Homo sapiens: one gene and its partner. Changing the gene in region 1 together with any one later gene gives a genetic interaction. Each region holds a gene or a part of one and is shown on either strand. Other genes may lie near its edges.

Region 1 (3,822 bases):
AGCAATGTCGTATCTTTCAGGTTACCAGCATCAGGGGACGTGAGCTCAGCTAACAAGTTTTGGCAACACTGTCCTCTGCTGAATATTCCCATTGGCATCTGTCATCTGCGCCAAATTAGTCCTCAGTTTGGAAGCTGAGCTAGAAGGTGGAGGTAACTTGGATATAGATGTGATAGCACCGGTGCTCTCAGTTATCCTTTTCACTGACGTTTTCTCCCCGGTGGGAGGCTTTGGCAACCGCCTCCTCAGCCAGGGGTGCCGCAAAGCCTGGCCTGGGGTCATGCGCACTGCAGGATCCCACTCTAAACACTGTTTTAAGAAGTCAAGGAAAAGGGGATCATCACACCCCTTCAGCGCGTTCCCCCACTCTCTGCTCTCCGGTGGGCCCCTCAGTTTCCCCCTCCGGGAACGGCCTCCGTTTAGGACCACAGAGCCATCTGAGAGAGTCGTGACAGTGCAGTAACGGGGATAACCCTTGGAGCTCACAAAATTTTTGGCTCGTTTGGATGCATCCAGCAGTTTCTGTGAGGGCATGCCCAACAGTTCAATCATACAGGCCAGCTGGTCCCCTTCATCTTCCCCAGGCAAGAGGGGGTAACCCGTCAGGAGCTCTGCTAAAATGCAGCCCAGGCTCCACATATCAATGGGCATGCCATACCTGGCCCCAAGGATCACTTCTGGAGCCCGGTAAAAACGCGACTGGATGTACGTGTAGACACGCTGATGCTCGTAACAACTGGAGCCAAAATCAATTACTTTAATACCGCTTCTACCCTGCTGCTTTAACAAAATGTTCTCGGGCTTAAGGTCACAGTGAATTATTCTGTTTTTGTGCAAAGCATCCAAGCACTGCAGAATCGAGTGGGCAAACTTGCGAACCAAAGGCAGACTGAAGCCCTGGAATTTATTCTTCTTGATGAGCTCATAGAGGTTCATGCTCAGCAGCTCAAACGTCATGCAGATGTGGTTGCGGAAGGTGAAATTCTCCAGCATATGGATGACATTCATTGTGTTATCCTTGTCCTGCTTCCGCAGGTGTTCCAGGATTCGGATCTCCTCCGCTGCTTGCCGGTGGAAGCGCTTCTCATTCCGCACCATCTTTAGGGCCACGTGCTGGTGGACTTTGTGATCGTAGGCCTTGACCACCTGCCCAAAGCTCCCCTTCCCAATGACCTTGAGGACCTCATACCTGTAAGCCACGTGATCGTGGGGCACCTGCACATATGATCCCTGGTCATCATCATAGCCACCATTGTTGGGCCCACCTGTCATGCCCTGGCGCTTCTTAGCATTTAGACCCAAGAAATATATTTCAGGGTAGCTGAAAATCTCATGGTGTTCGAAGGCTGTGAGTTTTTGCATGTATTGCTTCATTGCTTGTTCAGGTGTCATGGGGGTGGCTTTCACCTTCCCCATGCCTTCCATGGACTTTAGAGAGGTGGAGCTCCCCTGCCGTCTATGAATGCTGTCCAGCTGCCGCTCTGGCACCACTGGCAAGCCCGTTTTGCCCACTGTTGTAAGCCCATTTGGTTGTGTCGTGAGCACTGTCCGCTTGTTACTGTTATCCTCAAACAACTGTTGAACCTGGATCTGTCCGTGAGCGTGGCTGCCGACATGCAGGTGATCATTCATTGTGTGCTTACTGCCGCCAATCTGGAATTCAGACAGGAAATATAAATAGAAAAGAAGTGGTGTCTGTTCAAATGGTGTATAAGTAACCCCCAACAACACCACCGCCCCCAACCTCACATTTACAAAATCCCATTTGGTTTGAGTAAAAGCCACAAAACATGTGATCCTGAAAAATGGACCTCATAAATGCCATGCCTAACAGACAAGATGGTTTGCTGTACATATTCAGGGTTCCCCACGGAGACAGAGACCTTAACTTTATCATTCTATATCTAACACTTAGTATAGGGCCTGGCACATCATAGGTGTTCCACTCAATCCACATTTGATACAAAAATGAAACAGGATACAGAAAAAAACATGCACACATAAGACTCTATGTTGGCTCCTCCACCCCCAGATCACAGCACCTTTCATATTTCATCTAGTAGTTTATTAACATGAAGACAGGGACCATGTCTGTCTTGTTCACTACTCTTTCCCTAATACCTAGAGCTCTATCCTGAAAACACTTCATCACCAGTATTTCCCCTTTCCTTGAAAATCTGATGAAACCTAAGTGCACACATGATCCAGTGACAAAAACAAAAACCCTGTGTTTTTAGACTTGAAAGATTCCCATGTAGATGTGTACCATAGTATCTTATGGACCCCTGACCTATTTTTAAAAGTTTCCAGGCTTTACTAACTGTAATAACCATTTAAGGCATTCAGCCCAACAAACCAAGCAACGACCACACTGTTTGGCCTTCCTCCGGAGGGGTCAGTGGCTCAGCTCTCTGAAGATGTCCATTTCTACAAGCTGCTGGGATACTCAGATTTCCAAATAGGAATCCAAAGAAGCAACCTCTGTTTCAGGTATGCATGCCATCCCTGAACATTCCTGTCTAAATTCTATCAATGGTGTGAACCAAGGGACCCCAGCCCTCTACTGAGAATCTTCTTGGGATTTCCTTTAAGCATTATGGCTGCTGAGAGGTAAGGGGTAGGAGAGGACTGGCAGCCAGGATCCTCTCCCAGTTAGGAATTCCTGCCTTGGACAACCCCTAGTCTTAAAGCAGCCTGGCAGGTGATTTCTGTATGAAATCTTACACCACCTTGTCATCACAATCCACCTCATTCAGTCAACTGGTATTAACAGGAGGCTGGCTGCCAAAGTGACAGAGTCCCTGCCCTCCAGGAACTTACAATTAACTAGATGAAGTCCACTGCCATCAGTATTTTTTCTACTATCCCCTTTTAAATCCTACCTTTGGGGCTTTACATACTACTGAAAGAGCAGAAGGGCTCTGTATATGTAACACAGTAATTCAAAACATGATTTGGGAACACCTGGATTACAAAATGAAATTCCAACTCCTTCTTACTAGCAGACCAAGACGTTCACATTTTCTTTATTGGATACATAATATGCACAATGACTATGTGGAGTGTGAGCTTCCTCTCTGCCCACTTCTAACTAAAACAAAACAGAAGACAATACTTGGGGCCTGTCTGACTGTGACTTCATAGGCTCAGGGATATCATTTCTTAGACTTATAACTGAGCTTTTTTATCACACTCATAGATGATACTCCATGCTAGGTGACCTTATATTCAATAAGAGTAGCTAGAAAGGTTATTTTACCCTTGTTCTATGCCAAAAGCAGGGCAGTCCATAAAAATGAATCAGGCAAGTCTTGGGCATATATAAAAGAGGTACAGGCTTGTCCAATGCTTCTCTTCCCCAGCCTCGCTCTCTGCACCCTCTCCTGTCCACTGTGGTCTTTCAAACACCAGACAATAAAGGGGCCTGAATCAAAATATCTCTCTCCTATAGAATCATTTTCTTTAGAGTGGAGTGGTGATATTTCAGCAGAAAAATTCACATTACCTGTATACATGCTATAAAAAGCATAAAGCTCTTCATTAGGACAAAATTAACCTTGGGGCTTTAGAGATTTCTAAAAACACAGCAAAGTAAAACCAAGCCTCAGAAATTTACTTCAAGCAATTTTTGTGTTTCGCATAATTTAATACATGATCACAAATGTTTTAGTAACTAAAACTAACGAGACTGACAAGAAACGACCATCTTCTATATCTCCAACTGCCTTCTCTTGGTCTCCTTTGCAGCATCAACTACTACCTAACCTTAGGTGGATTCAAGAGTTCCCCAGGGTTCAAATCTCGATTCTCTTGGCTTCTTAC
Region 2 (3,822 bases), on another chromosome or scaffold:
GAATTTTGTTGTTTCTCAGTTGTTTTCCAAAAGCAAAGGAAGTCTTAATGTTTTTTTCTATTTCGTGTTATGTGTGATTTGTTTATATGCTTGGTAATATGAGTCTAATGGAATTTAAAAATATAAGTTTGGGTAGGATAGTATACCCTTAAAAAATAAATAAATAATTAGAGAGAGAGAGAGAGAGAGAGACCTGGGCACAGTGGCTGTTGCCTGTAATCTCAGCACTTTGGGAGGTCAAGGCAGGAGGATCCTTTGAGGCCAGGAGCTTGAGACCAACCTGGGCAACATAGAGAGACCCCAACTCTAAAATATACATACTATATCTAAACTCAGCTAGGCGTGGTGGTGTGAGCCTGGAGTCCCAGCTACTCAGGAGGTTAAGGTGTGAGGATCACTTGATCCCAGGAGGTTGAGGAGGCAGTGAGCTATGATTGTGCCACAGTGCTTCAGCCAGGGTGACAGAGTGAGACCCTGTCTCTTAAAAAAAAGAAAAGAGGCTGGGTGCAGTGGCTCATGCCTGTAATCCCAGCACTTTGGGAAGCCAAGGTGGGCAGATCACGAGGTCAGGAGTTCAAGACCAGCCTGTCTAATATGGTGAAACCCCATCTCTACTAAAAATACAAAAATTAGCCGAGCATGGTGGAGTGCGCCTGTAGTCCCAGCTACTCGAGAGGCTGAGGCAGGAGAATCGCTTGAACCCGGGAAGTTGGAGGTTGCAGTGAGCTGAGATTGCGCCACTGCACTCCAGCCTGGGTGACAAAGTGAGACTCCATCTCAAAAAAAAAAAAAAAGAAGAAAGAAAAGCAAAGCAAAGCCCAGGCCTGTACCTACTAGAGGTCCTGATAACTTCACCACTGAATTCTATCAAACATTTCAAGAAAAATTAATACAGTTCTTCACAAAGTCTTCAAAAATGAAAAAGAGGAGAAAATACTTACAAACGAATTTTATGAGACTGGTATTACCCTGTTGCCAAAAACCAGGAAAAGACATTACAAGAAAAGAAAACCATAGACAAATATATCTTACAAATGTGGAAGCAAAAATCCTCAACAAAAATACTAGCAAACTGAATCCAGTAACATATAAAAATAATTATATACCATAAACAAGCAGGATTTATTCCAGGAGTGCAAGGTTGGTTTAACATCCAAAAATGAATTAGTGTAAATAATGTAATGCATTATATCAATAGAATAAAAAACAAAAATCACCTTGTCATCTCAGTAGACACAGAAAAAGCATTTGACAAAATTCAGCATGTTTTTCATGATAAAAACACTAAATAAACTAAGAAGAGAAGAGCAGTTCCTCAACCTGATACACAGCAGTTATGAAAAACCCACAGCTAACTTCATAATAGTGAGACTGAGGCCAGGCACAGTGGCTCACGCCTGTAATCCTAACACTTTAGGAGGCCAAGGTTGGAGGGATCACTTGAGGTCAGGAGTTCAAGAACAGCCTGGCCAACATGGTGAAACCCTGTCTCTACTACAAATACAAAAAAAAATTAGCCAGGTGTGGTGGTGCATACCTATAATTGTAGCTACTTGGGAGGCTGAGGTGGGAGGATTGCTTGAACCTGGGAGGCAGAGGTTGCAGTGAGCTGAGATAGCACTACTGCACACAATAGGCTGGGCGACAGAGCTCAAAACAAACAAACAAACAAACAAAATAGTGAAAGACTGTATGCTTATCCTTAAGATTAGGAAAAAGAGAGATAAGTCTACTTTCACTACTGCTATTCAGCATTGTACTGGAGGTTCTAGCCAGGGCAATTAGGCAAGAAAATGCAATAAAATACATCTATGTTGGAAGGGAACAAGTAAGATCATCTCTGCAGATGACATGATCTTGCATATAGACCCTGAGGAATCCACTACCAAAGTATTGGAACTAATAAATTATTAGTTTAGTAAGGTTATAGGATACAAGATCATTACACAAAACTTAGTTGTAAATGTATCCACTTGGAATGAACAATCTGAAAAGGAAATTAAGAAAATTCCATTTACAATAACCTAAAAAATAAAAATACTTATAACAAAAGAGGTATCTTTTTTTCCATCCTCTGACAGTTTAGTAAAAGAAAGTATAAAACTTATACTCTAAAAGCTGTAAAACATTTTTGGTTTTGTTTTTTAAATTAATTTTTTTTGAAACGGAGTCTCACTCTGTCGTCCAGGCTGGAATGCGGTGGCGCGATCTCGGCTCACTGCAACCTCTGCCTCCCAGGTTAAAGCGATTCTCCTGCCTCAGCCTCCGGAGTAGCTGGAGCTACAGGTGTGCACCACCATGCCTGGCTAATTTTTGTATTTTTAGTATAGAGGGGGTTTCACCATGTTGGCCAGGCTGGTCTCGAACTCCTGACCTCAGGTGATCCACCCGCCTCAGCCTCTGAAAGTCCTGGGATTACAGGCGTGAGCTAGTGCGCCCAGCCTGGCCTTTTAAAATATTTAATTAATTGATTTTTTTTTTTCTCGGACTTGCACTGAAGTGAGAACAAGTGCAGTGGTGCAATCATATCTCAGTGCAGCCTAGACCTTCCAGGCTTAAGTGATCCTCCTATATCAGCCTCCCAAGCAGCTCAGACCACAGGCATGCGCGATCATCCCTAGCTTTTTTTTTTTGTTTGTTTGTTTTTTAATTTCTTGTAGAGACAGAGTCTCCCTGTGTTACCCAGGCTGGTCTTGAACCTGACCTCAAGCAACCTCCCATGTTGGCCCCTCAAAGTGCTGGGATTACAGGTGTGAGCCACCGTGCCTGGCCTGTAAAACATTTTTAAAAGAAAGAAGATATAAATAAATAAATAAATAGAAAATAGCTCTTGTTCATGGATCATAAGACATAACGTTGTCAAATTGGCAGTATTTTGGAAATTGATCTACACGTTTGACATAATCCCTGTCAGAATCCCAGTTTATTTCATTGTAGAAATTGACAAGTCTCCAGGCGTAGTGGCTCATGCCTGTAATCCCAGCACTTTGGGAGGCCGAGGCAGGCGGATCACCTGAGGTCAGGAGTTCAAGACCAGCCTGGCCAACATGGAGAAACCCTGTCTCTACTAAAACTACAAAATTAGCCGGGTGTGGTGGCACATACCTGTAATCCCAGGTACTCGGGAGGCTGAGGCAGGGAATCGCTTGAACCTGGGAGGCGGAGCTTGCGGTGAGCTGAGATCACGCGCCACTGCACTCCAGCTTGGGCAACAAGAGCGAAACTCCATCTCAAAAAAAAAAAAGAAATTGACAAGTCAATTCATAAATTCCTATGGAATCGCAAGGGACCCACAATAGCTAAATCTTGAAAAAGAACAAAGCAGAAAGACTCACGCTTTGTGATTTCAAGACATACTATAAAACAACTAATCAAGACAACGTCACCAGGCACCGTGGCTTATGCCTATAATCCCAACACTTTGGGAGGCCAAGGCAGGCAGATCACTTGAGGACAGGAGTTCGAGACCAGCCTGGGCAACATGGCGAAATCTTGTCTCTACCAAAAATACAAAAATTAACCGGGCGTGGGGGTGCACACTTGTAGTCCAAGCTGCTTGGGAGGGCTGAGGCACAAGAATCCCTTGAACCCAGGAGGTGGAGGTTGCAGTGAGTCGAGATCGTGCTATTGCACTCCAGCCTGGGGGACAGAGCGAGATTCCATTTCAAAAAAATAAAAATAAAAAGACAGTGTGGTACTGGTATAAGGATAAATGTGTAGATCAGTGGCATAGAATTGAGAGTCCAGAAATAAACCCAGTGGAATAGAGTTGAGAGTTCATGGTCACCTGATTCTTGACAAGGGTGCAAAGACCATTCAGTG

What was found.
Region 2: changes in DYRK2 (region 1) and NF2 together harm fitness more than expected from each alone (negative genetic interaction), as found in Homo sapiens cells (one large-scale study listed by BioGRID).

What each region holds. Positions count from the first base shown.
Region 1 is NC_000012.12:67,654,937-67,658,758, reverse strand, and holds part of DYRK2 (dual specificity tyrosine-phosphorylation-regulated kinase 2), read right to left. Parts: intron 1,654-3,822; coding exon 46-1,653; 3' UTR 1-45. UniProt on the Homo sapiens protein: Serine/threonine-protein kinase involved in the regulation of the mitotic cell cycle, cell proliferation, apoptosis, organization of the cytoskeleton and neurite outgrowth. Functions in part via its role in ubiquitin-dependent proteasomal protein degradation.
Region 2 is NC_000022.11:29,609,865-29,613,686, forward strand, and holds part of NF2 (merlin), read left to right. Parts: intron 1-3,822. UniProt on the Homo sapiens protein: Probable regulator of the Hippo/SWH (Sav/Wts/Hpo) signaling pathway, a signaling pathway that plays a pivotal role in tumor suppression by restricting proliferation and promoting apoptosis.